7 separate regions of the Homo sapiens genome follow, and all the other regions are linked to region 3. The links come from fine-mapping of genetic effects on gene expression. A gene starts in region 3. Each other region holds a variant in brackets. All regions are shown on one strand. Distances are between the middles of the regions. Region 1 has its middle 90 kb from the start of TRIM43. Region 2 has its middle 29 kb from the start of GPAT2. Region 3 holds the start of ZNF514 (zinc finger protein 514). Region 4 overlaps LOC124907857 (a long non-coding RNA gene). Region 5 overlaps KCNIP3 (potassium voltage-gated channel interacting protein 3). Region 6 overlaps MAL-AS1 (MAL antisense RNA 1). Region 7 has its middle 64 kb from the start of FAM95A.

What was found.
Region 1: its variant is fine-mapped to the expression of ZNF514 in whole blood (INTERVAL, PIP above 0.99).
Region 2: its variant is fine-mapped to the expression of ZNF514 in subcutaneous fat (FUSION, PIP 0.95).
Region 4: its variant is fine-mapped to the expression of ZNF514 in thyroid (GTEx, PIP 0.97).
Region 5: its variant is fine-mapped to the expression of ZNF514 in whole blood (TOPMed, PIP 0.97).
Region 6: its variant is fine-mapped to the expression of ZNF514 in whole blood (TOPMed, PIP 0.98).
Region 7: its variant is fine-mapped to the expression of ZNF514 in whole blood (INTERVAL, PIP 0.98).

What each region holds. Positions count from the first base shown.
Region 1 is chr2:95,679,834-95,683,900 of GRCh38, forward strand. No RefSeq gene overlaps it. Among named protein-coding and RNA genes, the nearest start is that of TRIM43, 90 kb to the left of the region's middle. RefSeq lists an enhancer at 3,436-3,936. The variant TCACACACACACA/T (reference allele first, on the strand shown) is at 2,312.
Region 2 is chr2:96,061,738-96,065,804 of GRCh38, forward strand. No RefSeq gene overlaps it. Among named protein-coding and RNA genes, the nearest start is that of GPAT2, 29 kb to the left of the region's middle. The variant A/AAGGAGAGCAGG (reference allele first, on the strand shown) is at 2,508.
Region 3 is chr2:95,157,412-95,161,478 of GRCh38, forward strand. It overlaps ZNF514 (zinc finger protein 514), which reads right to left and starts at 2,437. Exons shown (of 5, transcript NM_032788.3): 1 at 1,829-2,437; 2 at 1-28. RefSeq lists a silencer at 2,264-2,513.
Region 4 is chr2:95,070,413-95,074,479 of GRCh38, forward strand. The region is part of intron 1 of LOC124907857 (a long non-coding RNA gene); the gene reads right to left. Among named protein-coding and RNA genes, the nearest start is that of MAL-AS1, 45 kb to the left of the region's middle. The variant T/C (reference allele first, on the strand shown) is at 1,521.
Region 5 is chr2:95,372,109-95,376,175 of GRCh38, forward strand. KCNIP3 (potassium voltage-gated channel interacting protein 3) reads left to right here. Exons shown (of 9, transcript NM_013434.5): 3 at 2,188-2,312; 4 at 2,740-2,809; 5 at 3,030-3,100. Among named protein-coding and RNA genes, the nearest start is that of FAHD2A, 29 kb to the right of the region's middle. RefSeq lists enhancers at 2,288-2,867, 3,449-4,027. The variant C/G (reference allele first, on the strand shown) is at 2,322.
Region 6 is chr2:95,016,751-95,020,817 of GRCh38, forward strand. It overlaps MAL-AS1 (MAL antisense RNA 1), which reads right to left. Exons shown (of 8, transcript XR_007087136.1): 5 at 328-433. Among named protein-coding and RNA genes, the nearest start is that of MAL, 6.9 kb to the right of the region's middle. The variant A/T (reference allele first, on the strand shown) is at 2,249.
Region 7 is chr2:94,695,392-94,699,458 of GRCh38, forward strand. No RefSeq gene overlaps it. Among named protein-coding and RNA genes, the nearest start is that of FAM95A, 64 kb to the right of the region's middle. The variant T/C (reference allele first, on the strand shown) is at 1,952.

The sequences.
Region 1 (4,067 bases), 520 kb after region 3:
TAGCACCCCTGTGACTTTGGGCAGGTCCCCTCCCCTCATCTGCATTCCCTCCTCCTCATGTGGTCTGGCTCCCTGGGAACCCATGGTGGTGATAAGGTCAGAACACAGTGCGGTGGGTGACTTGGGGGCCAGAAAAGGAGGCTGTGGTCATCACTGAAGGAGGACAAAACAAGGACATGCACCAAGGAACTGACACTGGGGCCATCGAGAGAGAGGTGACAAGCTATGAAGTCTGACAACTGATTCATTTTTCAAGAGTCGAGACTAAAATAAGAGGAGATAACAATAGAAGCCATTTATTGAGTATTTAATATGTCCCTAGTGCTACATATACATTATCTACTTGATAAGACAGGAATGCTACATATACATTATCTACCTGATAAGACAGGTATTATTATTATCCCACTTTATAGATGGGGAAACTGAGGCTTAGAGAGGTAAAATGATTGTTCAAAGTTAACACTGTTAGTAAGTGGAAGAGCTAAAAATTGGAGACTTGATTTTTTACTCTTGCTAGAGCTCTTAGTCATTGCTTTATTCTGTCTCCTGTAAGTAGATTCACTCGTGAGGCTTTATTTGGATTTTATATGGTGACATATCATGGTTCTTCATGAAGCGAAGGTGGACAGGCACCTGCAGTGCTCAGGGTACATTGTGCGGGGAGAGCAAGAACCTTGGGAAGGAGACCTGGGGATCTGCCATCAGAAGAAAGTGAAAAATAGGAGGCTTTCTCATTTGTAAAGCACTTTCACAGCTTTTGCCTTAATCCATTCTCATGACAGCCTTGGGAGTTAGGCATGGATTTTTTTAAAAATCCCCATTTTCCAGTTGAGAAACTGAGTCCTGGAGAGGTGAAAGAATTGCCCAGAGTCATCTAACTGGTACATGGCAGGAGAGCAGAACCTGATTCTCTTTTCCCTGGGCTCTGCTGCTTGTCAGGGTTGGACATGAGGTCCCCAGAGGAAGCCCACGTTGCTGGGGGGTTAGACGGGAGGGGGACAGAGCAGGTATGGCTGGGGTCCTAAGAGCTGAGGTGAGAGAAGTTCTGAGGCACGTGTCCTCATCTTCAAAGTTCCAAGTAGGGAAGGGGGCCAGGGCTGAGGGTCTGAGAGTGGCATAGCCTGAAGTCCAGAGCTAGAGGACAATGCCAATGGCAAGAGCCCAGAAATGAAGGGACCACCTCAAATGGAGTGCTCTATGGGGTGCCCTCTCCAGAATCTAAGGGGAAGGAGAAGGTCCAGCAGGAATCACGGGTTTGGGTCTCTGCCATTCCTAACTCCCTGGTGCCTCAGGCATCGACGGGCAGGATGCTTGGAGGCCATGGGCTGCAGCGGAAGGAACACATGCTTTGGAGACAGATTGCTCTGGATTCAACCCCTGGTTTGATCACTTCCTTCCTGTGATTTTGTGTCTCAGTTGCCCTTTCCATAAAATGGAATAACAGCTTTTTTTTTAGTCATAAGGTGTGAATAAGTGAATGCATATTCACAATATCAAATGACTCATTCATTTCATGAACCAACATGTGCCAGCACTGTGCTAGGATAGTTCTGTGGGCCATGCAGACAAGGTCCCTGTCCTCATGCAGTTTACTTTGGTGCCCAGCACAACATAGGCCCCTACAAGCACCACTTCATTCCTCCCATCTGTAAAGTTACCTGATTTCTGTCCTGCAGTGCCTGGCTCCATGCCAGTAATCAGGAAGGAGAAAGGGGTGAATCAGAGAAGCAGAACCTCAAACTTTGTTCTGAGCCCACAGTTCCTGAGCTAAGCAGGAGCCAGAGGTCAGCAGGGTGAGGCTGGGGGCTGGGGACCAAAGAGGAGGGTTGGCACGTCATATTCCTCCTTATCTGACTGCCCTTGCACCAGAGCCCAGAGAGTTTGACAATGATGATCTCACTAGTGTTCAAAGCTTCCCGAGGGAGGCCAACAGCAAAGCAGAAAGCACTGGAGTGTGCTTGTGTTGACAGCTGCCGGATCAGAGGGCCTGGCTTGGGATCACAGGCTGCGGGGGTGGTGAAGCAGTGTGCAGATTCTGAAGCCTGGCACTCCCACGTGGGGCCCCAGGAGCCAGGTTCACCCACACAGAAACTCAAGGGAGGCTGCGTTTCCTAACCAACAGCCTTCACCTTGTGGTAGATTCTTTTCCTGTGGGTCATCTCTTTCAATTCTCCCAAGACTGCAAAGAGAGATTATTGTTCCCATTTTCTAGATCAGAAAACTGAGGCTCAGAAGAGTGAAGTAGCCTGCTTAAGGACGCATGTCTTCATCATAATAGTTGGTATGCAGGTTCCCCTCCCTGTCTCCA[TCACACACACACA/T]CACACACACACACACACACACACACACACACACACACACACACACACTGCAATGACTGTCTCCTAGGCTGGCTAACAGTGGACCAAGATGAGCCCATCCTTATCTGCATCCTGCATCAGTCCACGGAGAGCAGGCAGCAGGGATAAGGATGGGGAAGACAGGGTCAAGGAGTCAGACTACAGGCACCCCTGTGGCTCAGGGCATAGAGGGGGCTCAGGACACATGGAGCACCCCCTTGCCCACGTTCCTTTTCCGGGTCTGCCTCTCTACCAGACCTCTCTCCTTCCTCCTTTTTCGCATCCTCTTTGGATTCATTTTCTCCTCTCATTTCCCCTTCTCTGCTTCCTGATTCACCCTTTGCTATCTTTTCCAGTCTTTTCCGTTCCTCTCTTCAGTCTCTCCCTCTCCCTTTGCTTCCTTTCCCTGGACTCCCCTGGCTCCTTCTCCCTTTCTCATCCTCCCTCGTGTTTTCCTGTTTGTCTCTTCGATCTCCTTCCCTCCTTTTCCGTTTGTCTCTCCCCGGCCTGCGCCCCTCCCCGCCGCTCGCACCCTCCCTCGCGCTACTCCCTCTGCGCAGCCAACCCTCCCTCCGCCCCCTCGGGCCCGCCCTCCCCTCGCCAGTCTTCCCCGTTCTCTCTCCGCTCTCGCTCTCCGTGGTTTAGTGCTTGCCCTCCTGCTTCTGACAAACTATTTGTAGGAAAATGAGATTTGGTCCGCGCTGGACGGCTCCTCTGGGAAGCAGGCGTGGGGGTCGGGTGTCGGAGGCCCCGTGCGTCCCCCCACCCCGTACCAGAGCCCACGGCGCTTACGGAGCTCTTTAAGATAAATGAGTAAAATTAAGAGACTCGCCGGGGGAAGAAAACACTGGAAGGGAGCGAGCGAGAGCGGATGGTACTTGGTTTCCTCCCAGAAATGCATCCACGTGCGCCCCACTGGGGCCTCCCCCATCTGCTGCAGACTCCAGGGAACTTCCTCCCCTCAAAGACAAACTTCCAGCCCTGGAGCATGTTTCTTCCTTCCCTGGGATGTGGCGCTGAAAAGGGTAGAAACCTCTAGTAAGGCACAAGCAACAGATTGGGGGTGGAGCAGCAGGTCTCTTTGGAGGTGGCCTGGAAGAAACCTGACAGAGAGGATGGGAAGGGGAGAAACAGAAGAGTGTGACGAGGTGGGTGTCCAAGGGCAGTGGGACAGGCTGTCCGGGTGGGAGAGTGGACTTGAGGAAGTAGCTGCAGGCCCAGACTACTTCAGCCACACCCTGATCCCCTGGGACCCTCAGGGCACAGAAGGCAGTGCTGGCTCCAACCTCAGTCCAAGGAGCTGTGGAAGCCTCAGAGGCCCTTGGCAGAGGTGAGCCCTCATTTCTCACCTCAAAGGCAGGGATTGAATCCTTGTCACCCAGACAAGGATTTTCTCTTGTCTGGGTGGCAGAACTATAAGTTGTCAGAGGGCAAGTAGTGGGTCTTTGGTTTTTCTGCAGTACCACAGGGCTAGCTTACCTTAGGCCATAAGTATTATTTGTTGAGATGCGTGAATACAAGAATGTCTTAAAAGCTCTAGGCTCAATTTTCAACTCCCACAGATGTGCAATGAAAACAATTTTCCAGACTACTTTTTTTCCCTCTTATTTTGAAAGCAATACACTTATTTTTTCCAACAAACATTGAGACAACAGAGATAAGCAACATAGAAGAAAATAATAATCACCTGTTATTCTACTATAAACAATTTGGAATTTATCCTAAA
Region 2 (4,067 bases), 900 kb after region 3:
TCCCTGTGGTCCAGAGAGTTGGAGAAAGCCCCTTGGACCAGAGCCTTCCCACACTTGGTCCTGTGTCGGGTAGGAGATTTGCAGGAGGCCATTTCTGCTGTTCCAGAGCCCAGATGTACTTCCCTGGGGTGCTGGGAGCCAAGGCATGGAACTGCAGTCGCCTCCCAAGTTCAGGGCCCTGGGTGGAGCTGCTGGCTGCAGCCAGGGCCAGGGAGCAGAGATGCCCCTCTGCCACCCTGCCCCACCCCAGGCAATGAAGAAACTCCAAGCTCTGGGTCCGTGGGAGGCACCAGGCAAACAGAGGAGTCAGCAAGCTAAACATGCTATTAGCAGCGATGGAGAAGTGATGATTCTCTGCACAGCTGTCAGAAGCAGCTCCCCGCCGCCTGGCACCAGCACCTGGGGAGGGGCCTCCGCTCATCGGCCTTCACAGAGATGCCCCAGGCTGGGAAAGAAAGACCAGCAGGCCGGACATTCTGTGCCACCACTCCCTCGTCCTTAGCTGCAGGGATCTTGCCCTTCATCCAGAGACTGAGACCTGGAAGCGAGGCCCACCTCTGCACCTGCCCCCATAGCTGGGCCTTCGTTCCTCAAACTGTAAGCTGGGCATGAAAGTAATACCACCTTTTGTGGCAGAATTGTTGGGAGGGACCAGTGAGATATTTTGTCTGAAGCACCTTGCAAATGGTAAAGGGCTATGGGGTCACTGCTGTTACAATTCTTCTATCAAAAATCTAATCTTCAGGGCTTTCACTGTTTCATTCACACAGAATGAAATTGAGGCTCAAGAGGTTACACGATTTGACCAAGTCACACAACTGCAAACAAGTAGGTGTCAGTTTCCAGGATCGAAGCCAGGAGGAAGCTCAAAGAGCATCCAGCCCCCATGCTGTAAAAGGGATTCAAGGCCCAGAACCAGAAGGTGATTAGCCTTGCAGCAGGACAGAGGGCAGACAGCACCGAAGCCCAGCTCTGCTCACTCTGCTGGGAGCACTTCCCAGGCCACTGTGGATCTGGGCCTTGTCCTCAGCTTGGGGTGGCTGCAGGAGCATCCTGAGGAATGAACCCATGCCAGAGCACTGAAGATGCCCCCACCGCCCCCGCTGCAGACTCCTCACCCAGGTCTCTTCATCTCAAAGGGGCTGTCATAGAGGCCCAGGGCTGTGACCTGGAGGAACACACTCCACCTTCCTGACATCCAGCCCGTCTATCATTCTAATAGTGGAAAGGTGGGTTCCAGAGCCTGCTCAAGACACAGTGTGCAGAGCAGGGAAGGAGCCTGCCCAGGCACAAGGCAGGGGCCCCTCTCAAAGCCTCATGCGCTGCCTGGGGCCCTTGACAACCTGAGGCCTTCCAGGATGCTTTGAATTCAGTCTTCTTGGCCCTGCTGCTGCCCCACTTGACAGAAGAGAGATGGATGGGGAGGTGAGAGGCACTGCCCGCCTAACCACCCACCACCTGTCACTTCTGCCTTTTGAAATCACTTTCGTGGGCAGAGGCAGGGATGCTGATCACACCATGTGGGAGGGACTTGGAGGGTGGGGCGGTGACTCACAGGACAGTGGGGGATAGGAAGCAGCTCCAGAGCCTCCCTGGTAGTGAAAGGGAAGGGCGCTAGTGACTCAGGGACAGCTGGGGAGGGGTGCATGGGGAGGGAGCTCATTCCCCCCAGCTCTGTGCCCTGCATGCCTGGGGGGTGACCTCCTGTGGTGGGCCCCGATCTTGCCCCTGTGGGGCAGTCTTTGCCCTCAGCTTGCTTCCCAGCAGTAGCCAGGCACCCAGTAGCTGCATGGTGAGTGAATTCCAATCTTGCCCGCTGCCGGCCAGCTGTGCAGACCTTCGGCAGGCTGAGTGCTCCTCTGCCCTCACATCTAGGCCTGTAGATGGAAGCAGAGCCCGACTCATAGAGCCAATTGCCCATCCTGCAGCTGTGAATGTTGCAGCTTCCAGCAGGTTCTTGCTGCAGACTTACTGAGAGGACTGAGGGCTGTGGCAGGCCACCCCAGCCTGCTGGGCACCCCCTTCAGGATGGCCCCAACAAATAGTAAATAAATGCCCCACTCCCAGGCCTGCTTGCTTCCGGTGCTCCTTTCACCCCTGCCCTGCACTGAGCCCCCTGACTATGGCTCCCTGATTCGTTCTCAGCAACACCCGGTGTCCCCAGAACGCTACACACTGGGCCCTGGTGGGGCACAAGGGAAACAGCACATCTCAGACTGGGGTTTTCAAACCCAAAGAGAGTCTCCCACCTAGACAGAGGCAGAAGAGAGGCAGGCTCACGTGGTTGAACTGTGTCCCCTGTGCCCATAACACTCAGCCCATCCCCTACCACCTCCTCCCCGGCCACCTTCCCTGACATCGAGCCCATCCATCACCAAAGTCTCCCCAGAGCCCAACTACTGTCATCCCAAGCCCTGCCTCAGTCAGGCCACTGCCCCCTTCACTTTCTATCCAGGAGACCCAGCCAGCCAGTGAGCTCTGTCCTGAGATGGAAATGCGGCCACAGG[A/AAGGAGAGCAGG]AGGAGAGCAGGAGGAGAGCAGGAGGAGAGCAGGGGCCCAGGCTTCTTCCCTTCCTCATTACCTGTCCATCCATTGGTTCATCTGTCTGTCCATCTATCCACCTATCTACCCATCCATTCATCCATCCATTCATCTGTCCATCCATCTATCCATCTACCATCCATCCATTCATCCATTCACTCACCTGTCTGTCCATCTATCCATCCATCCATCTACCCACCAATCCATCCATTCTTCTGTCTATCCATCCATGCATCTATCCACCCATTTACTCATTCCTCCATCCATTCATTCATCTGTCCATCCACCTATCTATCCATCCATCCAATGATCCATTCATTCACTCATCTGCCTGTCCATTTGTCTATCCATTCATCCATCTTTCCATCTACCATCCATCCATTCATCCATCCATGTATTTATATGTCTATCCATCTATGCATCCACCCACCTATCTATCCATTCCTCCATCCATTCATTCATCTGTCCATCCATCTATCCATCTACCATCCATTCATTCATCCATCCATCCATTCATCTGTCTACCCATCTATGCATCCACCCACCTATCTGTCCATTCCTCCATCCATTCATTCATCTATCCATCTATCTATCCATCTACCATCCATCCATCCATCTACCATCCATCCATCCATTCATTCATCTGTCTGTCCATCTATCCATCCATCCAAACATCTATCCATCCATCCATCCACCCATCTATCCATCCATCCATCCACCCATCTATCCATCCATTCATCCATCCATCCATCCATCCATCCATCCATCTATCCATTCATCTGTTCAACCATCCACACATCCATCCATCCATCTATTCATTCATCTCTTCATCCATCCACACATCCATCCATCTAATCTCAGAATGCTTAGTGATGTCACCCTGTGCACATGGGTCTCCTGGAACATCAGCTTTAAAGGGGGAAGGATTACTGCTAGGTTTGTTCCCTGTGGTATCCTAGTGCCTAAAAGCTGGCACAAAGTCAGTGTTGAATACATATTTGTTGAATGTCAAATGACTGAATGAATGAATAGATTCTTCACCTGGAGAAGGGAAGTAGAGCCCACCAGCCATCATCTTCAAGTCTGGATGACCCAGGCCGAATCCCAGGCCATCCAGAGGTTAGGCCTCAGGTCCAGGGAATGGCATGACTTGCCCAAGGCCACCTGGCAGGGTAAGAGCAGGGCCAGGTGTCCGGCCTGGGTATTCTTCGCCCAGATTAGTGTTTTCTGCACTAACTACTAAGAGCTTTCTGTGCTGGCAGTCCCTGGGAGCAGCAGCAGAAGCCTAGAGCCCAGGGGTGGATCCAGTGGCCAGAGTCAGGAGCTGAGACTGGGAGCCTCTGAGGAGCAAGAACCTGCCTGAGTGGGGTCTGGATATTCCCAGCAGGAGGAAGAGTGTGTGCTGTGTGGCAAAGCTGTCCCAGCTGCCCAGAGGAGCAGCAAGTGCTCTGCTGGCCTTGCAATCCCTGCCCCAGGGTGGGATGAGCAGGCTCTGGCCTGGAACACAGCAACCTGGCAGCCCTCCAAGCCCAGCCACC
Region 3 (4,067 bases):
GGAAGAGCAGGATTCTGAGAAGGGGAAGCTGGGAAGGTAGAAGGAGACATAAGGGAAGCTGACCCAGCCAGCACACACAGCTCTCAGACTTCCCAAGCCTGAGACCCAGAACAGCTCTGAATGTCACCTCCGTTGTTCTGAGGACACCAGTGGATCAAAAGGATCTGAGAGGCAGCTTCTAGCCTTCAAACATTGAGAGAAGTGCCCCTGTACACAGCTGCATGAGGCTCCCACCTGTCCACAGCCCACATCAGTCTACAAGTGAGTGAAGTGTGACCAGTCTGGCCATACCACTGAAGTTATTTACTGGGCATACTGTATGCAGGTCATCTCCTAGGACTTTTGGAAATATAAATATGGAAAAGAACTTCAAGGAACTTTAAATCTAGCCTACAGGTTAACAATTACACAAGACCCAAGGCAAGGCCATGCAGGATTATGAGGCTTTAAGGGGAGGAAGTTACACCTCTCCCCTCATCCTTGGGAACCCAGCTCAGAGGCCACCTCTTTCTGAGAAGCTGCCCCTGGTGTTCCCAAGCTCTGTTAGGTCTCTGCAACACACTTGAGAGCTCCTTCATTATAAAGCTTTGCATCATACTGTTCATAAAAGCCTTAAAACAAACAAAAAAACTAACCCAAACCATGCCAGAGAAGTAGTTAAGGCTAACAACATGGGTGTAAGCATAGCACAGTTAGGCATTCCTCAAGCTTCATGTGTGTGTGGATCCCTGAGGATCTTGTTAAACTCTGGCTCAAGACTTGCTAAGACACTGTTTGAGGATGTGTGGGGCCCCAGAGTCTGCAATTCTAGAGAACTTCTGGGCAATGCCTCTGCTGTTCCCAGAGCCACACTGATTAACAAGGGTATAAAGGAAAAAAGAGGGGGTGGGAAGCCCACGGACTGGGCCCAGTTCTTCCACTGGCCAGTTATGTGTCCTTGAGCATGTGCACTGAAGGATGAACAGTCGGATTAAAATGCCCACCTGGTTAGAGATAGGACGTTCTAAACTTAGGACTGGCTTAAAACCTCCTGGGTCACCTGGATTGCCCTGCCCCCAACGCTATTGGGGGAAGGGGCTCAGAGGAGATACCCACCATGTACACTGCTGACCTTATACACCGCTGAGCTAGAACGACTGGAAGAACCTTATTAGTGAGGTGATTAAGGAGGTGGATGACAAGGCTCCAAATGGCCCTATCGTCCTCTGATCCCTGGCCAAGGGCCACTCCCTCTTGGGTTTGCTTGCCCTCTCCCTGCCGCAGCAGGAAGAGATCAGATCCTCTTCTGCTCTCCTCTGGCCATTGGGACAATTTTCCATGGCCATCCCCTCCACCTCCGCCACGGTCATCTAGAGACCCCTGCCAGACCCAGGAGACTGCGGCTTCAGCCTTCTGGGTCTGGAAGGTTAGATGTCGCCACACGGAAGGCAGATGAAGTACAGCCTCACCCTTCAGTGGGATTCCCCGGCCTCTTCCTGGGGTCCTCCTGATATCGGGCTCGGTACTAGCTCCCCAAGAGGGCTCCTGGCCCTCTGCACGCTCCAGAGCCAAACCTGATGCTGTGGAGTCCATAGCTGGGGCTAAGGAGCGGCGTCCTTTCACTAGGTCCAAATCTCTGTCTTTCGGCCACAGCCCTGTGGTCCTCCCGAGGGTTCAGGGAGCGGGACGCAGGCTGGGGCTGCCTGGGGGACACGGGGCATCCCCACTAGGCGCGGCGGGGCCAGCGGACCTGCAGGGCCCAGAGCAGGGCCGGCAAACCCCGGTGCGCCCAGCGCGGCGCACTGCTGCCCGGGGTCGTGCTCTTCCCTCGCCAAGTCCGGCCTCCTACCCCCGGCTCGGCTCCTCCTCAGGACCAGGCTCTGGAACCCAGCTCCCACGTGGATCCACACGCACAGTGGGCTCAGACTACCAGGAGACACGGCCACAGCCACGCCCGCGACGCGAGGGCCCAGCGCTCTTCAGCTGCCCGGAAACAGCAGGGATTCGGTGAGAGCCTCACAGGAGCAGGGACCGACTCTATCAGCCCGGTTCGCCCCGCTGTCCCTGCCTAGCTCCGGCCTGCACAGTCCCTAGCGGGGGGCACTCGGAGGGACACACCCAGCTCTGTAAGGGGCCGGGGCGCGGGCCCAGTACAGGTCTGCGCGCCCGCAGTCTCCGAACGCTCACAGGACCAGGCCCCGCCCGCCACCCCGCGCCAGCCCCCGCCCGCCACCCCGCGCCAGCCCCCGCCCGCCACCCCGCGCCAGCCCCCGCCCGCCACCCCGCGCCAGCCCCCGCGTCCGCCCCGCGCCAGCCCCCGCGTCCGCCCCGCGCCAGCCCCCGCGTCCGCCCCGCGCCAGCCCCGCCTCCCGAGGCCGTCCCGAGCTTGCGCAGACGCGGCCGCCGCCGGGGCCCTTCAGAGCCAGCGCCGGTGGCGGGGTGCTGGCGCGGCGAAGCTGGAGAGGCGGGGCTCGCGGGCGCCTGTAGGACCTCCGCTGGGAGGGGCCGTGCTCGCCGGCCACGCGCCGGTTTTCACTCCGCTCTCCCCCAAGGGCAGGGACCTACAAGCATTTCCCTTCTCGCGCGTGACTTTGGTAGCTGAGCCTCATATCTCTCTCGTTTTTTGGGGGGAGGGGGGAGACAGCCTCACTCTGTCGCCCAGGTGGGAGTGCAGGGGCGCGCTCTCGGCTCACCGCAACCTGTCTTCTGGGTACAAGTAATTCTCGTGTCTCAGCCTCCGTAGGAGCTGGGATTACAGGTTCCCGCCACCACGCCCAGCTAATTTGTTGTATTTTTAGTGGAGACGGGGTTTCACTATGTTAGCCACGCTGGTCTCGAATTCTGACCTCAGATGATCCTCCCGCCTCAGCCTCCCAAAGTGCTGTGATTACAGGTGTGAGCCACCGCCCCCAACCTGCATATCTCGATGTAAGGCTATTCAACAGAAGCCGCGTTCCTACCCTGGATCTGCTGAGTGAGGATTTCCAGGAGGCTCTCCTGGCGTGCCTAGGGGATACTGGGGACTCAGTGCTAGATACTGCTTCTACAGGCTGCCCCGTGCCTCTTGCCTTTCTCCATCTGCCCCTGAATTCAGCGAAGGGTGCTGAAGAACAAAAGAGGACTTTGAACGCCCTCCTACTCCAGAAACAAATATCATTTAGGACCCAAAAGAAATGGAAAAACGGCCTGCTATGGTCTGAATGTATGTGTCCCCCTCAAATTCATATGTTGAAACCTAACTCCCAAGGTGATAGTATTAAGAAGTGGAGCCTTTGGAAGACTCTGCCCTCATGAATGAGATTAGTGCCCTTTAAAAACAGCCCTTAGACCGGTCGTGGTGGCTCACATCTGTAATCCCAGCACTTTGGGAGGCCAAGGCGGGCGGATCACTTGAGGTCAGAAGTTTGAGACCAGCCTGGCCAACATGGTGAAACCCTGTCTCTACCAAAAATATATTTAAAAATTAGCTGGGCGTGGTGGTGCACGCCTGTAATCCTAGCTACTCAGGAGGCTGAGACAGGAGAATTGCTTGAACCCGGGAGGCAGAGGTTGTGAGCCAAGATCGTGCCACTGCACTCCAGCCTGGGCGACAGAGCAAGACTCCGTCTCAAAAAATAAATTAAATAAATAAATAAAAATAAAAACGGGCCTTAAGCCCCCTTTGCTCCTCCTGCCATGTGAGGACACAGAAGGTGCCATCTATGAGAAACGTACCCTCACCAGCCCCTGAACTGGCTGGCACGTTGATATTGCATTTCCCAGCATCCAGAACTGTGAACAACAAATTTGTGTTGTTTACAAATTCCCCAGTTTAAGACACTCTGTTATAGCAGCGCCAATGCCTAAGACACAGTCTGAGTATTAAAACGGTGGTTTTCTGGAGGCAGTCCTCAGCCAGAGAAGGGCCACTTGTGAGGACAGAGAGATTGGTTTATCAACCCTATTTAGGAGTTCAGGACAAAATAACTTACAAAATCAAGGCAAAGACAAAATAACACGAAATCAAGGCAAAGAGACCATTCTCCTTTCCTGCTTTTGCAGTCTCTGTTTCACTTTTCTGCCAGCACTTCCAGTGGCACAGATGGCCA
Region 4 (4,067 bases), 87 kb before region 3:
TTACAGGCATGAGCCACTGCGCCTGGCCTGTTCCATTAATTTCTTTGCCTATTCTGGAAATGATGCCAACTTCTTAAAGGTGTTGCAAGAACAGAATAGTCAACACACTGAAAAGAATGTCTGGCATTGAGTACTATATATATATTATATATATATATATATAAAATGTGACCCCAAAATGTATGAGTCTATTTCGTTCTATCCTCTCACCAACATATAATATATATAATATATATACATATTATATATTATATATAATATGTATATATATTATATTATATATTATATTACATATTATATATTATATTACATATTATATATTTATATATTACATATTATATATTATATTTTATATTATATATTATATCATATATATGTTATGCATTATATAATACATAATATATTATATATGATATAATATATATTATATATTATTATATATAATATAATTAATATATTATGTATTATATAATATATATTATGTTATAATATATAATATATATTATATAATTATATAATATATTATGTATTATATAATATATATTATGTTATAATATATTATATTATATATATTATATATATATTATATATATAATGTATATTATATATAATACATAATATATTATATATTATATATTATTTTATATAATATATTATATAATGTGATATATTATATAATATATTATATAACATAGTATATTATATAATATATTATATAATGTAATATATTATATATTATATAATATATTGTATGTAATATAATATATAATATATATTATATATATATTTAAATATAAGAATACTTAACCCATCCTGGCTAACATGGTGAAACCCCATCTCTACTAAAAATACAAAAAATTAGCCGGGCGTGGTGGCGGGTACCTGTAGTCCCAGCTACTTGGGAGGCTGAGGCAGGAGAATGGCATGAACCCGGGAGGCGGAGCTTGCAGTGAGCCGACATTGTGCCACTGCACTCCAGCCTGGGCGACAGAGCAAGACTCCATCTCAAAAAAAAAAAGAATACTTAACCAACAAAAATTGTATATATTTATGGTGTACAACACGATGTTTTGATATATGTGTACATTGTGGAATGGCTAAATCAAGCTAATTAATATATGCATTACCTCACATATTTTTCTGCAGTGAGAACATTTGAAATCTACTCTCTTAGCAATTTTAAAGAATGCAATACACTATTATAGCTATTGTCACCATGTTGTGCAACAGATCACTCCTGAATTTATTCTTCCCCACTGAAATTGCGTATACTTTGACTACTATCTCCTCAAAGTAACCACCATTCTACTTTCTGCTTCTATGAGTTCAACTTTCTCGGCTTGCACATGTGAGATCATACGGTATTTGTCGGTCTGTGTCCAGCTTATTTCACTTAGCATGAAGTCCTCCCGCTTCCTGTGGTCTCTGTAACTTGTGCTCCATGCCTGGGATCTCTTTTACGTTACTTTTTCTAACTGGCCATTGCTGGGGCATTGGCCACCTTATGATTTTTTATGGGG[T/C]AACCTGTATCGGGCCACCTTGAGCCTTACTTGCATTTGCTCTAAGAGTCTGCCATTGATCCTCTTGGATTATCTGTGTGGACAATCATGTCCCCTGGAATGAAGACTGCTTTGTTCCTTTCTGTCCCTCCTCTTGGCTTGCTGTGCTGGGTCAGCTCCCAAGACAGAATTGAGTGGTTAACGAGCAGGCATGCATGCCCTGTTCCCTACAGCAAAAGAAGAAATGCTTCTAAGGTTTTACCATTCAGTCCCAGGCTTACTCTAGTAAGCACATTTATCTCAACGAGGTTCCCTTCTACTCCTAGTTTGCCAAGAGACTTATCAAGAATGGGTGTGACTTATCAGTTTTTAGGGTCTCTCTTGGAGCAGATCGATCACAAGCCTTTCTTCTTTTAAACTGATGCCCTAGAAAATTACAGTCATAGACTATTGTTCAACCAGTCCTGGGGCCATTGTTCTGGCAGCCCTAGGGACACCCCAACCCCATCATATGAGGATATTTCCTTCTCAGGGAGAAAGGCTGAGAGATCAAATCAGGACCCATGAACTCAGGCAAGTTCCACCACGATCTGTGATCCCCTTCCTAGGAAGGTCAGCTCCCATAGCCTGGGAAGGCTATGGCCCAGACCTGTGCTTTCTGCTTTAAAGGCTATAACCAAGAGCCAGAACACCCCGTGCCCACCGAGTCCCAGTCTCAGAGCCTGCCTGTGGATTGCAGCCAAACCCATCTGTGTCCACCTGTGGGGCCACATGAGCCGCCAGTTCTGGAGTCCAGGACATTCAGGCTCAGGAGAAATTGCACCTTGAAAGAGAGATGACCAGAGATGAGCAGCCTTTTAACTGGCCTCCATCTGTTGGTGTCTCAAAACTTCATCTGTCAGATACCAAAGGAATCTAAGAAAAGCTTCACCTAGAAAAGGGAATAATTCTTATTTCAGAAGTTTCCACCACAGGACTACTGTAATGTTCTATAGAAGTGCCATAATTTTTTTGGGATTTTCACCTTTGGAGGCATCCATGGAATTGACATGCCATTTTCTTTGTGTGTTGCCTGGACTTGAGAGCTTTAAAAAATACAGCCCAGGACCCAAGCCTTGGAAATTCTGATCCAGTTGCCAGGTGATGGATATTGAAATCTGCATTTTTTTTTTTGAGACAGCATCTCTCTCTCTCTCTCTGTTGCTGAGGCTGGAGTGCAGTGGTGCAATCACAGATCACTGCAGCCTTGAACTCTTGGGCTCAAGCATCCTCCTGCCTCAGCCTCCTAAGTATCTGGGACTACAGGTGCATGCCACCATGCCCAGCTAATTTTAATTTTTTGTAGAGACACGGTCTCCCTATGTTGCCCAGGCTGGTCACAAACTCCTGGCTTTAAGCAGTCTCCCTGCCTCAGCCTCTGAAAACGCTGGGATTCCAGGGGTAAGCCACTGCATCTGGCGAGAAATCTGCATTTTTAAAGAGCTTTTTCAGAAGGTTCATTTATGGTCAGCCAGGTTTGAAAACCACTGACTGAGAAGGTACTGGAAGGTTCTGGCCTCAGCCTCATCATCATTGAGATCAAAGGGTTCCTGGAAGGTCTCAGAGATGGCATGGTCACCATGCTAATTCTAGCCCAAGTGGAGCAGGAATGTGTGTGTCTGGGTGCACACTGCTGAGTCCAGCTCTCACTGGGAACTCAAGGGGACCCTAAACCTGTGGCTTCCATCCTGAGGGCTCTGGGAACTAGCTTTGTGCATTCATAAGCAGTCCAAGCCCCTTATACCCTCCAGTGTTGTTTTCCAAAATGTATACCTGTGCTCATGGTGCCTACGTTAAAAACACCGCTAACCTCAGAGCAGCTTTTTACAAACTTATATCTCCATCGACAGTTACTAGAAGTGTACCTACTATTAACATGCGTATTGGGTAGAGGACCAATGTGCAAATTTAAAATATATGTATATTAAACAGAGCTCTTCAAGCATGGACAGGCTGGGAAGTCCTGGGGAGAGGGCCTCCCTGAAGCCAGTGGCTGCCTCTGAGTTAATGAGCAGCTGGGTGGCTGCTGCCCTGACCGCTGGGCAGGCAGTCACCCCACTCCCACCCCACTCGGGTGACAGCTGGCCCGGGGGCAGTCCAGGACTTGAGTCATCCCAGTCTGTGACAGGGAGGGCAACGTTAGAGAGGAGGGCCTGGGACAGAGTGAGCCTTTTGACCATGGAACTGCCTGGGGTGAGGGTGAGGGCACCGTGGCTGCCATCCTAGTGAAGCCCCACCCCACCCGATACTTCAGGCTGACTCTTAGATTCTTAGAAGAGTTCTCAGCCTGCCCAACATTGAGTGGAAGGGTTTGGGTGTTAATGGCCTCAAAGGCTTCTGTCAGGCCCACAAAGACACCATGAACAAGCCCTCAATACCTGGCCAACCGCATGGCTGACCCCATTGTCCTTCCCTAGGCGTGGGCAGGGGCTATGGAGGGTGATCTGGCCAGCGTCTGATTCATAGGCGCAAATCAAAACGGCCACTGAAGCCCACGTGGCTTCCTGCGGGCAGGAAAGGAGATTTCAC
Region 5 (4,067 bases), 210 kb after region 3:
TATATCTTTGTATTAGGAGTATCCCTCTTGTAAACAGGATATAATTGGATCTTGCTTTTCCAGTCTGAAAAGTCTGCCTCTTAATCAAAGGATTCTTACCATCCATCCATCCATCCATCCATCCACGCTGCTGTGTGTACATCTGCTCCACGGCACAGTTCTCCCCAGTGTGCAGCCTCCATATTTTGCCTACCCATCCTGCCTGCCATAAACCCCTGAGTTGCCTCCAACTCTCCTGCCAAAAATGCTGTTGCTGTGAGCATCCTTGTGCAGGCCCCTGGGCAGGGGAAGAGTCTATGTGGGATGCTTGCCTGGCGTGGGATGCTGGTTTACAGGGTTTGCCTATACTTAATATGACTAAGGATTCGAGATACTACAGTATGTCTATATGGTGATGGGAATGATCCAGAAGAGGGGAAAAGGTGATGAGGAAAGAGTGGGAGACTTGGCTGGCACCGCTTGCCTGAGTAGGTGAGAGGGATCGGGACCCACTGCACAAGTGGCAGGTTTGCCTTTGCTGGGAGCAGGCACAGTTCAGCCATGGAGCAGGCAGGCGTGCAGACGTCTGGGCCAGGTGCAGGCAGGTGGGTAGGTGTGGGGTGAGGGCTTGGGGAAGTTTTCCTCCATGGCTTGTGTCTTCTCAGTGAAGTGGGAAGCAACCTGAGGGTAAGGATGGGAGAGGAGATACTGGAAACTTAAGGGGAAGGATGGTATGAAATAGTTATCTTGGAGATGGGGAGCATGTGTGGACCAAAGAAACAGCCCAATTGCTGAGCAGCTTTCAGGGTGCTCTTGTGGTTAGTGTGAGTGGGCAGTGCAGGCTGTCTTTCCCACCACGCTCTCGGGAGAGGCCTGGGTATGGAGCAAGCTCAGCACAGGACCAGTGCCCAGCACCATGCCAGGCACCACGGGCACAGGATGAGCTGTGCAGGACAGCTGCCCCTGAAGAGCTCACTGTGCAGTGGGAGAGGCAGCAGCCAGCACCAGAGTACCAGCCATGAGGGTGATTATGGATCACCACCATTCTGTGTGGCCCAGGGGAGACAGGGCGACGGTGCAGCGGGGCCCATGAGTCCTGGGTCTGTGGGAAGGTGGCGCTCTGTAATTATGCGAGGATGCTGCTCAGCAAGGTGTGGGCACTCAGTGCTGTTTCAGCCCTAGCTTTATTTTGCATTGTAAAAGTGATGCATGTCACACCAAAAGAAATTAGGAAAATGTTTTTTAAAATCATAAATAAAAAAGTAAAAATCACCTGAAATTGCACCTCCCCCTCAAATGTAGCCATGGTTAGTTAACAAGTTTGTGGTTTTTTTTTTTTTTTTTTTTTTTTTTGAGATGCAGTCTTGCTCTGTCACCCAGGCTGGAGTTCAGTGGCGCGATCGCGGCTCACTGCAAGCTCCGCCTCCCCGGTTCACACCATTCTCCTGCCTCAGCCTCCCGAGTAGCTGGGACTACAGGCGCCCGCCACCATGCCTGGCTAATTTTTTGTATTTTTATTAGAGACGGGGTTTCACCGTGTTAGCCAGGATGGTCTCGATCTCCTGACCTCGTGATCTGCCTCAGCCTCCCAAAGTGCTGGGATTACAGGTGTGAGTCACCGCACCCTGCCAAGTTTGTGTATTGTTTTTAAAGGACAGGTCTGATCCCTGCCCCCACAGCCCTGGAGGTTTAGCCTCCTAACCAGATGTGAATAACACCCCTCTGCCAACTGTAGCTGAACAGCATCGCCTTAGGCCTTGAGGGCCAAGGGAGGCACCCTCTCCATTCCTGGGGAAAGTCAGGGAGGGCCACATGGAGGAAGTGGTCTAGGAATTGGATACTGAAGTTCAAGTGTCCCTCATGCCTGTCTTGCTGTCTTTCCCCCTCCTATATCCCCTTGTTCAGTGCCTCTTTAGGACAAGAGCAGCTCCCACCTTGTCCCACTGTGCGGCTGACAGGGGGGCACACTGCAGGGGCTGCGATGGGGAGGCCCGCCCTGTGGGGGGCAGGAAAGCAGAGGCACAGCTCTTGTGTGGGCCACTCAGTCACACCCCCTCTGTGCAGTGCACAGCCTGTGTGGCTGTCCATGGTAGTCATGCAAAGAGAGTTCCTCCACCTGCTATTTTGGCCCATGCCCTGGCCACACTGGAGCAAGATGGAGGAGCAGGGCTACAGGCCTTACACTCTCTGGTCTGTGTCCCACTCCAGATAGCAGCGACAGTGAGCTGGAGCTGTCCACGGTGCGCCACCAGCCAGAGGGGCTGGACCAGCTGCAGGCCCAGACCAAGTTCACCAAGAAGGAGCTGCAGTCTCTCTACAGGGGCTTTAAGAATGTGAGTGTT[C/G]CCCATTCCCCCGGGAGAGGCCTTGGAGACCCTGGCTCAGGGAGACCTGGAAACTTCTCCATGCCACAGTAAATATCCCAGGGGCCTTTAAGGGGCTTATGTGTTGTGGGAAAGCTGTGTGGCGGGGGCAGGCTCCGGAATGGGCATCGCTGAGGCCGCCATGCTCCTCCCTCCGTGTCTTTGCTGCTGGTACAGAGGAGGAGGGTATGGGGGAGCAGTCACCCCCTTCCTATTCACCCCTCCTCCCTCTCACCCCACCTCTACCCAGGCTTTCCACAACCCAGGCCAGGGGGCCCCAGCAGTGCCACAGGCAGCAGGCAGCCCCCAAGGGGGTGGAGAGAGGCCAGCCAGGCACCATGCAGAGTCGGGCTTGGAGCTGGGGGTGGCCGAGGGCTGAGGGGGTGCCTTCCTGCTGCAGGAGTGTCCCACGGGCCTGGTGGACGAAGACACCTTCAAACTCATTTACGCGCAGTTCTTCCCTCAGGGAGGTGAGTCTGAGGCAGGGCAGCCCTGCTGTGTCCCAGTGTGGAGGGAGGGGACCCTCCTGCTGCCCCTTGCATCCTGGAGGCTTGGTGCTGCCCCTGTCCCGTGGGAAACAGGGACTCCAAGCCAGGACGCAGTTAGCACCCTCAGCTGGGGTTGCCTGGGGTGGGAGATGAGCCGCCAGGCAGCCCCGACACACCCCAGCCTCTTCCTTGCCCTCCCCAGATGCCACCACCTATGCACACTTCCTCTTCAACGCCTTTGATGCGGACGGGAACGGGGCCATCCACTTTGAGGTAGGTCCTCGCGGATTCCTCCCACGTGTCCTGCCCCTGTGGTTGCAGGAGTGAATCCTTACCCTGGCGTCACTGTCAGGGCTGTCGAGAGAGCCATGGTCCTGGGTGGGAAGGATCTTGTGAGTCACCCTGGGAATGAGTGGATGTGGCTGGCCCTGGGCCAGTGAGCTCTGGGGTGTTTGACTTTGCTGGGCCGGCACCACGTTCTCAGCCTTTTCTTCCATTTGAGAGTTTGCATCCAGCTCTGCCTGGTCAAGGGAGCCCCCGAGACACACACGGGTGGTAGTGACCCAGCGGGAATTTGCATTTTCAAAGGGATCAGGGCTTAACTCAGAGGCCTGGTTTGCTGACGGTGGGATGTGAGACCTCCATTTTCAGAATTTACTCCTTGTTACCCAGAAAATAGGCCAAAAATATCTAGAAAACATCCCAGCCGGAGCAGCCTCCAGGGCTCATCCCAGCTGGGCACTGAGAGCAAAGCCTGGTGTTACCCACTGGCGGAAGGAGAAGCCTGTCCCCCACCCAGACAGCTTCCCTGTGGGGTCCTGGCCTGGGCTCCTCCCCAGCCCCGCCACACAGGATCATTGGAGAGAGGCCCCATCTGCGGAGCCCAAGCCTCTAAAAATAGCTGCAGGCGAAAAGCTGAAACCGCTTTGGGGAGGAAAACCTTTCTGAGAGCCGGCTTGATCGATACCCCGACAGCTTGGCTTCCACTGGGCTAAGGGCAGCTAACAGGAAAGCACAGAGAAGCACATGGGGCCAGAAGGCCCCGGCCACACGGGGTAATAATAACTTGTCGATAAGCTGCGCGGGTTATTTTTATGCCGCAAGCCCGCCAGGCACACTGACGCTCCCCGCCTGCCCTGTGACCACAGGACCCCTCGACTCTGAGCCACACTCTGAGGGCTCTGCACATAGAAGCAGACCGTGTTTTCAAATCTTGTTTTCAGATTTGAAATACCAACCC
Region 6 (4,067 bases), 140 kb before region 3:
TGGTGAGCCTGCCCTGTCATACTTCTGAGCTGGGCGGGCTCCAGCCCTCCCTCACAGGCCCGAGAGGCCACCGGAGGTGAAACCTTTAGAGCCACCTCAGCAGGTGACTAAGGGCTAATGAGACCCCGTCAGTGCACCAGGCAGTCTGGTGAGCCGTAGAGAGAGTGAGCCCATGAGAGCTGGGTTCCCATGAAGGCTGGGCTTCCACTGGGGCTGAGAGACTTTATTTGCTGATGACAACCCTGGAAGCTTTTTGAATTTGCTTTCCTTCCCTAGCATCGCAAGGCCACAGTGACCCCTTGTAAGAGCTCACAGTGAGGCACTCACGTTGTGTCAGCCTTGGGTTTCGCTGGAGGCTCAGCTGTCAGCTGTGGGGTTGGCTCAGGTGGCCGTCCCATCTTCTGCTGTATAGGAATTCACGGTGCGGTGCCTCCTGCAATGAGCAGAACAAGAACTACCACTTGCTAGGAGGGTAGGTACAGAAATAGCCTTAGGCCTGGGAGGTGACAGCCTGGAGACGAGGTAGGGATCTGGGTGTGTGTGTGACAGCCAGAATGTTCCCTAACAGAAGCTGCATTCAAACAGGGGAGAAAACTTTTCTCCTGAGAGTGAAGCTGTGAGACAGGGCATGGCACGTGTGGGACAGCAAAGAATCCTGGGGGAGCCCAGGGGGCCTCTATTTATGTCAACACCAGCTGTCATGTCCCGGGCGCTGCCTCATGCCAGACACTGCCAAGGGCACTCACACACATTATCTCGTTTAATCCACAGACAGCCCTGGGAGAGAGATTAGCATCACTATTGTGTAGACAAGGAAACCCAGGCACCGAGAAGTCAAGTAATTTGTCTAAAGTTGCACAGCAAGGAAATAGCAGAAGGGAGAGTTCGTTTGTTTGTTTGTTTGTTTTGAGACAGAGTCTCACTCTACAGCCCAGGCTGGAGTTCAGTGGCATGATCTCGGCTCACTACAGCCTCCACCAACCGGGCTCAAGCCGTCCTAGAAGGGAGATTTTTAATCCAGGCCCCGAGGTCACTCTAATCTGAGTGCTCTCTGAGGTCTGGCAGAAGGGAGGAATTCTGTGGCACATTCATGATGTGATCAGAGGGAGGATGGTGCCTGTGAAGAAGACAGAGGTGCCGCGCTGACCCTGTGTGCAGCCAACTCTGGGGAAGGCAGTAGGCAGAAGAGAAAGCCAGGGGCCCCAGGTCAGAGGTGTCAGGCACCGAAACAGGCAACCCCTTCTTGGGAAGGAAGGCTAAGGCACAGGGCAGCGAGGCCAGCACGGAGGGGCCGCTCAGCAGCCCCGGGCCGCCCCGGGACAGCAAACATGCAGCCCTTTCTGCCTAGCCCTGCCTCTAGCCCTGCCTCGCAGAGGATGGGACCATGTGAGGGTAGGGAAAAGAAAGAGGATGTCCCCAGAAATGTGGCATCCGAGGTCTCCTGCCCAGCTCTGCAACACACAGGAGTTCCCGGCCAGGCAGAAGGAGGCGACCTCCACAGATCAGCAGGCTGGAGCCAAGGTGTGCGTTCCTTTAGTGGGTTTTCAGTTGCAAATTCTACATCCTTTGTCCACTGTTTAACGAAAAAATGACGTTTCCTGCCCTCAGCCCAGTGCTTTCTCACCCCCCAATACCATCCTACCATCCTCAAAGGGAGCCGTTGTGAGGAGCGCAGTTTCTGTCCGTCCAGGTGTGCATTTACCTCTGTATCTGCAGACACATTTTATTAGAAGCAAAAAATGGATTATGCTTTAAGCACGGATCTGCCACTTCCTCTTTTACCTTGAAAGGACGCTGTCCCGGCATCCTCCGGTGTCAGCACATGGACATCCACTGTCCCTTTTCCACCCACGGCAGGGTGTCATCCCACAGCCTGGACACAGGCCTCCTATGCCAAGTGGATTAAACACTTCATGAGAAGAGACTGTCCTTTCCCACATAAAGAGCAAGTGATCGGGCCTGGAGCTGGTGGGGAGAGACTGTCATGTCTCGGAGGACCGGGTAGCGCCAAGATTCTGACCTCTCTGATTTTTTAAGGGGTTTGGGGAAGGTGATGGATCGAGAGGTGACGGGTTCTGGCAAGTGAGAGTTTGGAAAGATGGTGGGGTCTGGAAAGAGATGGGCCTGGGGGGTTTGGGGTCTGGGAGGTGATGCAGAGGGGATGGGTCTGAATCCTCCTCACGATGCAATGCCTAGTCCTGCACGGTCAGGGTCACTCCCAAACAAACCGGGCTGGTCGGATGCAGGC[A/T]GCCCTCCCCTCCACAGCTGTGGCTGCCCTCTGCCCACCAGCCTCTGGTTTCCTACATGCCTCTGAGGTGCACCTCTCTGGGCGCCTCCTCATCTGTCATCCAGGTGGGGCAGTGGCGAGTCCCCTCCCTTCCTTCTAAGGCTTAGCAGTTCTGAATCATAGACCAAGACCCGGGGCAGCCAAGAGCTTTTCCTTCCTTTTCCTTTAGGCCCTACTGCTTCAAAAACAGGTCTGTTGCCACAACAGGAACCAATGCACCCAAAGGACACAGTTTGTGTCATGGGCAGCAAGTTTAGGAAACCAACAGGACAGGCCCTGTGGGGTCTGAGGGTTCCTCAGCTTTCCAGACGCCTGCCTGTGAGCTCATTTTCCCCGCCCTTTCTCCCTGTCCTTCAAGAAGCACTCATGGCCCTGCCCATGGGCCAGGTGCTGCGCTAAGCACTACGCACTGAGACGTGAAGTAGCAATTTCCTACTACCCTCCATGCAAACATTCCATTCTTCTTTTGCAGCAAGTTTTTGCATTCTGCTTTGTTGAGTTTTATGGTTTTGATGTGTTTCTTGATCTCATGCTGTTCCTGATCTCCAAGTCCCCTGTGCCAACTCAGAGACATCTGGGCTGGTCCCTGTGCCCTGTTTCTTCTGGCTGTGCTCCAAGTGCTTGGCCCTGGCCAATCATTCCAGTGACAGAAGAAACAGTAACCCTCACTGGACCCTGCTTTCTTCCCCCAGAGGAGAACCCACATTGGCCTTGTCGAAGGTCTCGATGGCCCCACCCTGGAGTGCCTACACCTGCACCTCTCAGGCTCCCACATGTGCCTCCCTGTCCAGCCTGGCTCCCTGTGCTCGCAGAGCCTGTGTGTGACACTAGGGGAGTGTGTTTGAGGCTGAATGAGTGGCCAAGTCACCAGCTGGAAAGAGAAGCTCAGAGAAGGAACGAATTCACCTCTCTATGAGTTCTAAAAGATCATGTGCAGAAATGAAAATAGTTGCCTTGATTTGGAAGAATCGGGGGCATTAGGACAATGCCGTTTTTGTCTGTTTTCTAAGTAAGGGTGCATTTTTTTCCAACAGAAAATAGGAATGCTAAGAAGAAGGGTATCTATCAGGAGAGCCTCCACTGCCACAGTCTCTCTCCTTGACTATAGGGCCAGGCGGCTTCTCTAGAAGGTGGATTCCTGGTCGTCCACGAGGGAGTGACCTCACTCTAAGGGGCGGGGGGGGGGGCGCCTTTGGAGGAAGCCCCAGGTGGAAGTATAAGTTTGAGCAGGAAAGGCCTGGGGCCAAGGTCATTGCAGGATGCATCTGCGAAATTCTGTTATTTACTTAACAACCACTCCAGAGTCTAAGAAGGCAGGCAGCGGCCATCTGAGGGGTGCTGTAAGTGAAACCTGAAGGGAGATGCTTTGCACTGGAGCAAACCAGCCTAGCCCCAAACATGCTGAGACTACATTCCAAAGATCCACTGGCCCAGCCCTGCAGGTCTGATGTTTCGGGCAACGTGGGCCAAATTCCTGGTGCAACTTGCTGGGCAGGTTGTGAGCTCTCCTGTGGAGGCGCAGGGTCCAGTCCCTCTCTGGGGCAGAGAAGGTGGGCTCCAAACAGGGAAGAAGAGGGGTCTTACTCTTGGGGTTCAACAGAGGGAATGGACTAAGTTCAAGGTATGCGGCATACCCTTTGCATTTTGCCTGAGCCCAGCCTGTCCCTGGCCTTTCTGGGTCTGCCCAGGAGCCACCTTCTCACACAGGTCACAGGCCTCCCTGGCCCCAGGACTCACCTGCACTGTCCCCTTGGCCTGGCACACTCCCTCCCTCTTCCTG
Region 7 (4,067 bases), 460 kb before region 3:
CGCTTGTAGTCCCAGCTACTCGGGAGGCTGAGGCAGGAGAATGGCGTGAACCCAGCGGGGCGGAGCTTGCAGTGAGCCGAGATCGCGCCACTGCACTCCAGCCTGGGGGACAGAGCGAGACTCCGTCTCAAAAAAAAAAAAAAAAAAAAAAGAAAAGAAAAGGAGAATAAATGTATGAGATATTGAAACTCAAGAAAATGGATATCCTTGGTTATGCAAAGTCATACAGATTGGTAAAATGGTCATTGGAGACTCAGAGCGGGGAGGGTGACAGGGGAGTGAGGGATGGAAACTTGCCTAGTGGGTACAGGGTACACTATTCAGGTGATGACTATATTAAAAGCCCAGACTTCACCACAATACAATACAACCATGTAACCAAAAACCCTTTATCCCTAAAGCTATTGATTTTTTTTAAAAAATTATAGCCTTAATGGTGATATTGCAAAGAATAAAAGATTAAATGCCAGTAGTCCAAATACCCACAGGTTGAAAACAGAACATGCTTAAAAATGGTACATTTAAAGAAGCTGAAAACCAAACAGTAAACCAAATCCAATGAAAATAGAAGTCATACAAGAGATATTAATGGAAAATAATACATTCAAAAAGAATCACATAATCAAGGGGATCAAAAAAAGCCAAAAGTTTTTCCTTGTAATAATGTTAAAATAACCTTTTACAAAATTCAGAGACCAAAAAAAAGTGTGTGAGAGGGAGAGAGGGAGGGAGGGAGCACAGTAATATAAAAAGAAAAGGTATTACTACTGATCCTATAGAAGAAAGAAATTCAAAGTTATGAGCTACATTATTGCAGTACATATTTGACAGTTTAAATAAAATTTGTAAAAAACTTGAAAAATGTCACTTACCAAAACTGACATGAGAAGACATAAAAATCGGAATATTCCTGTAACTATTTTTAAAATCCATAATAACTTTTTCTCATATATGTACAAAAGTTCTAGGTCCAGATGTTTCACTAGAGAATTCTTCAAAACATATTAACAGGAAAGAAAACTAACATTATTTACATATTTCCCCTACTGAAAAATTTCTCAGCTTGTTTTATAAGGTTACCGATAATTTTAACATAGAAATGTGACAAGGACATTAGAAGAAAAGACAGTAACAGGCCAGTCTCTCTTACAACCTAGCTAAAAATAATTTAAATTAAATATTATACATAAAACTCAGCAATATATAAACCACAAACAGGCTGGGCTTGTTACAGGGATGAACATGTTTTCATATTCAAAATTTTAAAACTGCAGTGTGTTTTCTTAACAGAATAAAAGCCAAAAATTATATGACATTCTCTATAACTAAAAAAAAAAAAATTCCAAAGTCTATGAGTGACAAAACCTATTACCTAAGTTGCAATGATGAAAAAATATTTAAATTATTAAAGGCTACTTCCAAAATGACTGTGATGAACACCTCTGTAATGGCGAAGTGTTGAACATTTTCCTACTGACATTGGGAATGAGAAAATGATACTATGATCAACTTTGCTCAACCTTACACCTGACAAAATTGCTAGTGAGAAAGTAAAGAAGAAATAAAAAAGATATAAGAACTTGAGGAGAAGCAATTAAGCTAATTTTTCACCAAAAAAATGAACAATTTACAGATAAACTATTATATGAATACATTTACAAGGTATGTGACTATAAGATAATATTTGAAATCCATTGCATTTCTTTTTTAAGGAAAGAAGAACTTCTAAAATTGAAATTTGAAAAAAAGATACCTCTAACAATAACATCAGAAATATCAATTATACAGGAATTAATTTACTAACTACAATACAAAATCTGAAAATGAAAACCCAGAAAGCATTATGAGAAAATTGTTGAAAGTCAGGACATTAGTTACCCGGAAAAGGTAGGCAAATATTATCCTAGGAATGAGTTTAGGAGAATTCTGGGTTGTCAGTAATAGCTAGTTC[T/C]CTAACTTGCATGGTTATTTATGTTTATTGCAAAATAGTAGCTTACTTTTTAAATTTTATAATATCCATTGAATGTTTATTATGATATACCCATTGAGATCTATGTTTATGATTTGTATATTTTTTAGGGGTGTGAAACAACAATAAAACATTTATTAAAAAGAAAATTAATGAATAACAGTAAATTTTTTATGACATCAGATGATTTGTACATCTGATAGTTCTTGACATACCATCTATATTTGACTTTCTTGTTTGAATAGTTTCTCTAAAAATGTTTTTAGTACCCTGCTTTGGGTAGCAAACCACTTGAGGGAGGATGAGTCTGGGAATATTTTTTAAAATGCTCTCAATGTTCAATAGCATTTTATTTGCATATAAAATTCTACATTATAGCTGTTTTCCTTCTATAATTTTTTTATAAAATATATTTCCATAGGTTATTGGGGAACAGGTGGTGTTTGGTTACATGAGTAAGTTCTTTAGTGGCCATTTGTGAGATTTTGGTGCACCCATCACCCTAGCAGTATACACTGCACCCTATTTGTAGTCTTTTATCCCTCACCCCCTTCCCACCTTTTCCCCTTGAGTCCCTAAAGTCCATTGTATAATTCTTATGCATTTTCATCCTCATAGCTTAGCTCCCATTTATGAGTGAAAACATACAATGTTTGATTTTCCATTCCTGAGTTACTTCACTTAGAATAATAGTCTCCAGTCTCATTCAGGTTGCTGCAAATGCCATGAATTCATTTCTTTTTATGGCTGAGTAATATTCTATTGTGTGTGTATACACACACACACACACACACACACACACACACACACCACAGTGTCTTTATCCACTTGTTGTTTTATGGTAATTTGGGTAGGTCCCAGGTTTTTGTAATTGCGAATTGTTCTGCTATAAACACGCATGTGCAAGTATCTTTCGTGTAATGACTTATTTTCCTCTGGGTAGATATCCAGGAGTAGGATTTCCGGATCAAATGGTAGTTCTACTTTTAGTTCTTTAAGGAATTTCCGCACTGTTTTCCACAGTGGCTGTACTAGTTTACATTCTCACCAGCAGTGTAGAAGTGTTCCTTGATCACCGCATCCATGTCAACATCTGCTGTTTTTTGATTTTTTGCTTAGGGCTATTTTTGCAGGAGTAAGGTGGTATTGCATTGTGGTTTTGATTTGCATTTCCCTGATCATTAGTGATGTTGAGCATTTTTTCATATGTTTATTGGCCATTATGTATATCTTCTTTGGAGAATTATCTATTCATGTCCTTAGCTCACTTTTGATGAGGTTTTTTTTTTTTCTTACTGATTTCTTTGAGTTCCTTGTAGGTTTTGGATATTAGTCTTTTGTCAGATGTATAGATTGTGAAGATTTTCTCTCACTCTGTGGGTTGCCTGTTTACACAGCTGATCATTCCTTCGGCCTTGCAAAGGCTTTTTAGTTTAATCATTTCCAACCTATTTATCTTTGTTTTTATTGCATTTGCTTTTGGGTTCTTGTCATGAAATCCTTGCCTAAGCCAATGTCTAGAAGTGTGTTTCCAATGTTATCTTCTACAATTTTTACAGTTTCAGGTCTTAGATTTATTTATTTATTTATTTATTTATTTATTTATTTTTGAGATAGAGTCTTGCTGTAGCCCCAGGCTGGAGTGCAGTGGTGCAATCTCAGCTCACTGTAACCTCTGCCTCCTGGGTTCAAGCGAGTCTCCTGCCTCAGCCTCCCAAGCTAGGATTACAGGCACATGCCACCACGCCTGGTTTACTTCTGTATTTTTTTAGTAGAGATGGGGTTTTGCCATGTTGGCCAGGCAGGTCTTGAACTCTTGACCTTAGGTGATCCGCATGTCCCAGCCTCCCAAAGTGCTGAGATTACAGACATGAGCCACAGCGCCCAGCCAGATTTAAGTTCTTAATCCATTTTGAGTTGATTTTTGTAGAAGGTGAGAGACGAGGATCCAGTTTCACTTCCTACGTGTAGCTAGCCAATTATTCCAGCACAATTTGTTGAATAGGGTGTCTTTTCCCCAGTTTGTGTTTTTGTTTGCTTAGGCAAAGATCAGTTGGCTCTTAGGTATTTGGGTTTATTTCTGGGTTCTTTTTTAATA